Homo sapiens: one gene and its partner. The protein of the gene in region 1 interacts with the protein of each later gene in a biochemical or structural test. Each region holds a gene or a part of one and is shown on either strand. Other genes may lie near its edges.

Evidence for each region.
Region 2: of the proteins of TYSND1 (region 1) and ACOX1, one has a biochemical effect on the other in vitro, tested with the Homo sapiens proteins (one study listed by BioGRID).

What each region holds. Positions count from the first base shown.
Region 1 is NC_000010.11:70,140,591-70,143,700, reverse strand, and holds part of TYSND1 (peroxisomal leader peptide-processing protease), read left to right. Parts: intron 1-847; coding exon 848-1,033; intron 1,034-3,110. UniProt on the Homo sapiens protein: Peroxisomal protease that mediates both the removal of the leader peptide from proteins containing a PTS2 target sequence and processes several PTS1-containing proteins.
Region 2 is NC_000017.11:75,948,057-75,952,237, reverse strand, and holds part of ACOX1 (peroxisomal acyl-coenzyme A oxidase 1), read left to right. Parts: intron 1-660; coding exon 661-823; intron 824-1,273; coding exon 1,274-1,464; intron 1,465-2,340; coding exon 2,341-2,520; intron 2,521-2,637; coding exon 2,638-2,743; intron 2,744-2,877; coding exon 2,878-3,021; intron 3,022-3,780; coding exon 3,781-3,987; intron 3,988-4,181. UniProt on the Homo sapiens protein: Involved in the initial and rate-limiting step of peroxisomal beta-oxidation of straight-chain saturated and unsaturated very-long-chain fatty acids.

The DNA of each region.
Region 1 (3,110 bases):
TGGTGGGGCACATGGAGTGCCCTGGGAAGGATAATGCTGCACGCCCTTTCCCCGAGTGCCTGCAGCAATGTAGTGTGAGGATGCTGGGCCTTTGGGGTTCCTTAACACTTCAGGCTGGTCAGAGAGGCATGTGGCACTTTCAAGGCTCCAGGGGCACGATTTGGGTAAAAGGCTTTGTGATGCTGCCACATAAGTACTGATGTTGCACTCCATGGAGGCAGTGTGATACAGTGATGAAGGGTCCAGGGGCTCTGGATGGGCATCTTTCCTATGCCACCTATTAGTCCCATGTCCTTGGACAGGCTAGTTAACTATCCTCTGCCTCATTTTCCACGTCTTTGAAATGGGGCTAATGCATCCTATTTCTGGGTGTTGTGAGGGCTGGGTGTGACGTTGCCTGTAAAGCACTTACCCCCATACCCTGCACTTGGAAAAGGAAGGTCATGGCTGCATTATAGCCATCATCACCATTTCTTTTCACGAAGAGACTTCTTAGGAGTTCCAGGAGGAGATGGGTGTGAATTCCACAAACATTTATTGAGCATGTAGGTAGGTGTTAGGAACTCCTAAAAGTCACTGCCCCGCCTGTCCAGGGAACAAGGACTAGGGAACAGCCTGTTGCTCAGAAGTGGTCATGCAGATACAGTGCTAGGAGCTCAGTGGAGTTCTCAGCCTCTTCCAGCCAGGGGACATGGGGAAGGCTCTCTGGAGGCAGGAGTATCTGAGCAGAAACTTGAAGGGTGGAGAGGTTTGGAATGTTTGGAGAGGGTAGGGATGGGAGTTAGGGAGTGTGAGTCCTGCTGTAACACAGGTGTCCCCAGCTTCACCCTCCTTCCTTCCCTGGCAGGCGAGGCTGTGAGTGTGGTGGGCTTTGGCGTCTTTGGCCAGTCTTGCGGGCCCTCGGTGACCTCAGGCATCCTTTCGGCTGTGGTGCAGGTGAATGGCACGCCCGTAATGCTGCAGACCACGTGTGCTGTGCACAGCGGCTCCAGTGGGGGACCCCTCTTCTCCAACCACTCAGGAAACCTCCTTGGTAACCAGCTCTTTGGCCCCCTCCCGCCCTCCCACTTGCCAGAACCTCAGTCCCACCCCATGAGTGCTTGTGGCCAGCCCCAGTGCACCCTCTGTCTGGGAAAATGGTGGGCATTATGAGTGAGCTAGCGAAGGTTTGCAGGCTGTTCTCCTGATGGTGGAGAGGGACGGATGCTGGACTGGGAGGAAAGAGATCTGGGCTCTGGTCCCTTCTCTGCTACTAATCTAATCTGGTTTGATCTGTGAAATTGAGGAGTTGGATTAGTCAAAGCGTCACAGACTCAAAAGCCAACAGAGGCTGGAAAGATAAAGCAAATGAATGAGAAGACAACAGGGAGGGGAGGGGAGGGGTCTAAACTGAAGCGCACTCGACTCAGCTGCTGCAGACTGTGGCCATGAAGGAGGATGGGCCTAACGTTGGCTGGTATTCTAATATTTTCACAAGACATGTAAAGCTTTTTTAAAAAAATACATGTGGCCGTTAAATCGATCAATTTTTAAATTTTGGTAACATTCAGGTTTTTAAAAAACAGTCTGTTTAGCTGTCAAAAAGAAAAAAACATGAGTTCATCTAGAAACCTCCAACTCCAGTCCAGTCTAACTCTCCTTGTTTCTTCTTTCTCCTGTAGTGAAAAACCTTGCTCTTGTTGTCTACAATATGTTTACTTATCTGTTCCATCCTAGTATACAAGTAAAATTGTATTTGCATAACTTTAGTATATTTCCTCTAAATATTTAGTACTTACAAAGAGGAAATATTGGAGCCGTAAGTAATATTTAGAGCCATAAGTCTAGGCCTGGTGTGGTAGCTCGTGCCAGTAATCCCAACACTTCCGGAGGCTGAGGCAAGAGGATCACTTGAAATGGGAGTTCGAGACCAGCCTGGGCAACATAGTGAGACTCTGCCTCTATTTTTATTTAAAAAAATTTTTTTTAATTAAAAAAAAAGAAAGGAAAATACTAAGTCTACCTTGGAGAGGCCTGGCAGATACCACCTCAGCCAAGTGATCAAGGTGAACGTCAGAAGTACTCCATACAGACATCAGATAGCTGAGACACTGGGAAGGACACATGGCTTTTATGGTATTCTTCCCAATAATGTGTAACCTTAAACAATTAAAAGTAATGGCAAAACAATTAAAAGTAATGACAAAAACCGCATTCATTTTTGCACCAACCCAATAGTCATGAGAAAACATTAGGTAGGCCTCAATTGAGGGTCATTCTCTAAAATCACTGACCTGAGCCAGACATGGTGGTATGTGCCTGTAGTCCTGGCTCTGCAGGAATCTGAAGTGGGAAGATCACTTGAGCCCAGGAGTTCAAGGCTGCAGTGAACTATGGTCACCATTACACTTTAGCCTGTGTGACAGAGCGAGACCCATCTCAAAAAAATAAACAGTGTTTATTTAAAAAAAAAAAAAAAAAAGCCAGGTATGGTGGCTCGCACTTGTAATTCTAGCACTTTTGGAGGCCAGGGCGGGAGGATTGCTTGAGTCTGGGAGTTCAAGACCAAGCTGGACAACCATAGTGAGGCCCCATCTCTACAAAATATTTTAGGGAGGCTGAGGCGGGAGAATCACTTGAGCCCAGGAGGTTGAGGTTGCAGTGAGCTATAATCCCACCACTGCACTCTAGCATGGGTGACAGAGCGAGACCTTGCCTCTAAAAAAACAAAAACAAGAACAAAAAAAAAAACTGTAAATAAATAAAATAACCTGCACTTTTAAAAATGTCAAGGCCACGAAAGATAAGGAAAGACTGAGGAACTGACCCAGATTGGAGGAGATTTGGGAGATGCGACAACTAAATGGAATATGGAGTCCTAGACTGGATATTGGAACTGAAAAAGGACATTAGTGGAAAAACTAGTGCAACTCATGTCAATGAGTTCTGTAGTTCACTTAATAACAGTATTCTACCAAGGTATATGTTTTGGTTTTGATAAATATTTTTTGGTGACATTAGATACGAACATAAAGGAAAGCTGGTCAAAGGGTATATAGAATTCTGCAATATTTAGGCAAGACTTCTGTATGTCTGAAATTATCTTTAAAAAACTACACACACATCCATGC
Region 2 (4,181 bases), on another chromosome or scaffold:
TCAAAATATTTAACACCATCCATTGGGTCTTCTCCAAGATTGTGGTCAAAATACAATGTATTCAGCCATCTGGTGAGTAGAGCTTTTTGGCATTGCCTTCTTATTAGGTTGACTAGCGTTGGTTTTGTATGTTGCTATGAGCTACGGTTTTCTTAGTCATACTGGAAAGACTAGGACAGATATGGACTTTGCAGCCAGAAAATTCTGTCAGCCTACGCAGTACAAGGTAATTACAGCATGGTCTTAGGGAGCCAAATAGCCTAGGCACCGTGGCTCATGCCTGTAATCCCACCACTGTGGGAGGCTGAGGCAAGAGAATCGCTTGAACTTGGGAGGCGGAGCTTGCAGTGAGCCAAGATCGCACCACTGCACTAAAGCCTGGGTGACAGAGGGAGACTCCATCACAAAAAAAAAAAAAAAAAAAAAAAAGCCTCAATTTAAATCTAAGACCTGCCACATACGAGCTGTGTGACCTCAGGCAGATTCTTAACCTCTCAGTTTCCCATTTGTAAAATGGAGATAGTAATAGTAACTACCTCACAGTGCCCTTAAGAGGACTAAATAAGTTAAAATACCAAGTGCTTAGATTAGAACCTGGCATATAGAAAGTTCTGTATAAACATTTACTTACTACTTTTTTTCTTTTTCTATGTCACGTAGTGAACCAGAACCACAGATTTTGGATTTTCAAACCCAGCAGTATAAACTCTTTCCACTCCTGGCCACTGCCTATGCCTTCCAGTTTGTGGGCGCATACATGAAGGAGACCTATCACCGGATTAACGAAGGCATTGGTCAAGGGGACCTGAGTGAACTGCCTGAGGTATGAGTTTGGTCTCATTCACTCATGGGCACCCTTCTGTTTCGTGGTTGCCTGTTGGATGAGGTCCAGAGATAACTAAATGTTGGTATTTCCTGAAAAGAAGTATGTATTCTGAGAACTTCTTCTGGTTGAAAGTAGATCAGATATGAAGATCTGTGGGGTTTGTTGTTCAGTATTTTTAGTGTTATCAGAAATACTGTACCATGTTGATTATTTGTCAATCAAGGAAATGTAAGTGGTGAATGTTTAGCCAAGTAGAACAGCTTAGATGGGCATGGGTAGTGTTCTGTATTCTTCTGGCCAGTCGGACAGCTGTGCTTCTTCAGTTTGCATGTGTGGCAGCTGTGTTTTGACAGTGGCCAAGATGTTAGAGGAGGGGTGTGTTTTCTCATTGGTTCTCGGGCTCTCAGCACCACAGATGTCCTGACAGATCTGTGCTTGTCCTCTCAGCTTCATGCCCTCACCGCTGGACTGAAGGCTTTCACCTCCTGGACTGCAAACACTGGCATTGAAGCATGTCGGATGGCTTGTGGTGGGCATGGCTATTCTCATTGCAGTGGTCTTCCAAATATTTATGTCAATTTCACCCCAAGCTGTACCTTTGAGGGAGAAAACACTGTCATGATGCTCCAGACGGCTAGGTGAGAGTCAAATCCTCGATTCCTCCCATCTGTTCATAAGAATGTTCTAGTCCTTTTCCTAGGTTCTTGTTCCCATGGTTTTTCTTCACCGTATATATATATTTGTTCCTGAAAGGTATACTTTTGCCTTCCATCCTGACTCACGGTTTTTATTTCGTGGTGAGGCTAGAGAGTATGAAGCACCTGTTACATAGCTTGCAGTTGTATCAAGGATAGAGTTACTGGGCTGGGCACAGTGGCTCATGACTGTAATCCCAGCACTTTGGGAAGCTGAGGTGGGCAGATCATGAGGTAAGGAGTTCAAGACCAGCTTGATCAACATGGTGAAACCGTGTCTCTACTAAAAAAATACAAAAAAATTAGCCGGGCATGATGGCACATTGCCTGTAATCCCGGCCTACTTGGGAGGCTGAGGCAGAAGAATCGCTTGAACCTGGGAAGCGGAGGTTGCAGTGAGCCAAGATTGCGCTATTGCACTCCATCCTGGGCAACAAGAGCGAAAACTCCATCAAAAAAAAAAAGGCCAGGTGTGGTGGCTTACTCCTGTAATCCCAGCACTTTGGGACGCCAAGCCGGGTAGATCACTTGAGGTCAGGAGTTAAGAGACCAGCCTGGCCAACATGGTAAAACCCTGTCTCTACTAAAAAAACAAAATATTAAAAATTAGCCAGGAATGGTGGCAGGTGCCTGTAGTCCCAGCTACTTGGGAGGCTGAGGCAGGAGAATCATTCATTTGAACCCAAGAGGAGGAGGTTGCAGTGAGCTGAGATCTGGCCATTGCACTCCATCCAGCCTAGGCAACAAGAATGAAACTCCATCTCAAAAGAAACAAAAGAAAGTAGAGTTACTAAAAGCATGTTTACTGGTGACTTTTAGGTTCCTGATGAAAAGTTATGATCAGGTGCACTCAGGAAAGTTGGTGTGTGGCATGGTGTCCTATTTGAACGACCTGCCCAGTCAGCGCATCCAGCCACAGCAGGTAGCAGTCTGGCCAACCATGGTGGATATCAACAGCCCCGAAAGCCTAACCGAAGCATATAAACTCCGTGCAGCCAGGTGAGCTCTCCCTCAAGAGCTAGAATACGCAGCAGTGGGGCTGGGGCCCTGACAGATGGCAAGAAGGCATGAGTACTGTTGATCATTTCCTCAGACCTCCAATCTATGTCTTAACAGATTAGTAGAAATTGCTGCAAAAAACCTTCAAAAAGAAGTGATTCACAGAAAAAGCAAGGAGGTAGCTTGGAACCTAACTTCTGTTGACCTTGTTCGAGCAAGTGAGGTCAGTGGTAGTTCTCTCTTTTTCCCCTTCCCTGCCCTCAGCATCCCGCATTTTCTGGTACAGAAACCCTAGTCACTGTATATTGAATCTTTTTCCAAGGTTCTCAAACTCTGGTGTTTTCTTTTTAATCTTAGGCACATTGCCACTATGTGGTAGTTAAGCTCTTTTCAGAAAAACTCCTCAAAATTCAAGATAAAGCCATTCAAGCTGTCTTAAGGAGTTTATGTCTGCTGTATTCTCTGTATGGAATCAGTCAGAACGCGGGGGATTTCCTTCAGGTCAGTATTTTCTAAGTATAAGTCTTTTTTGTTGTTGTTTTAAGAAAAATAATTGTTGGCTGGGCACGGTGGCTCATGCCTGTAATCCCAGCACTTTGGGAGCCCAAGGCGGGTACGGTGATCACTTGAGGTCAGGAGTTCAAGACCAGCCTGGCCTGGTGAAACCCTGTCTCTACTAAAAATACAAAAATTAGCCAGGTGCAGTGGCACATGCCTGTAATCCCAGCTACTAGGGAGGCTGAGGCACGAGAATCATTTGAACCCTGGAGGCAGAGGTTGCAGTGAGCCAAGATGAAACCACTGCATTCCAGCCTGGGTGACAGAGCAATACTCTGTCTCAAAAAAAAAAAAAAAGAAAAAGAAAAATAGCCAGGCACAGTGGCTCATGCCTGTAATCCCAACACTTTGGCCAAGGCGGGCAGATCACCTGAGGTCGGGAGTTCGAGACCAGCCTGACCAACATGGAGAAACCCCATCTCTACTAAAAATACAAAATTAGCCAGGTGTGCTGGCGCATGCCTGTAATTCCAGCTATTTGGGAGGCCAAGGGAGGAGAATTGCTTGAACCTGGGAGGCGGAGATTGCGGTGAGCCAAGATCACACCATTGTACTCCAGCCTGGGCAACAAGAGTGAAACTCAGTCTCAAAAAAAAAAAAAGAAAAAAATAATTGTCATCCGCTTTATAGCTGTATATGCATATAATTATGTCTATCTATATACATATATATGTTTTATTTACTTATTTTGGTCTCTTTTAGGGGAGCATCATGACAGAGCCTCAGATTACACAAGTAAACCAGCGTGTAAAGGAGTTACTCACTCTGATTCGCTCAGATGCTGTTGCTTTGGTTGATGCATTTGATTTTCAGGATGTGACACTTGGCTCTGTGCTTGGCCGCTATGATGGGAATGTGTATGAAAACTTGTTTGAGTGGGCTAAGAACTCCCCACTGAACAAAGCAGAGGTAAAAATCCAGTGTCTCTGCACCTTTTTAAAAGTCTTCACTTAAATATTGAAGCAGGAAAGGCCTCTCGAAGGGGATTTATCTGTGAAAGCTCTGAAAGTACCATGGCCACTTCTGACAGTCACTTTATTTGAGCAACAGGTTCAGAAGGGAACTGGGTTGTTCCCACAGTAACCAGGGTCTTAATCAATTTC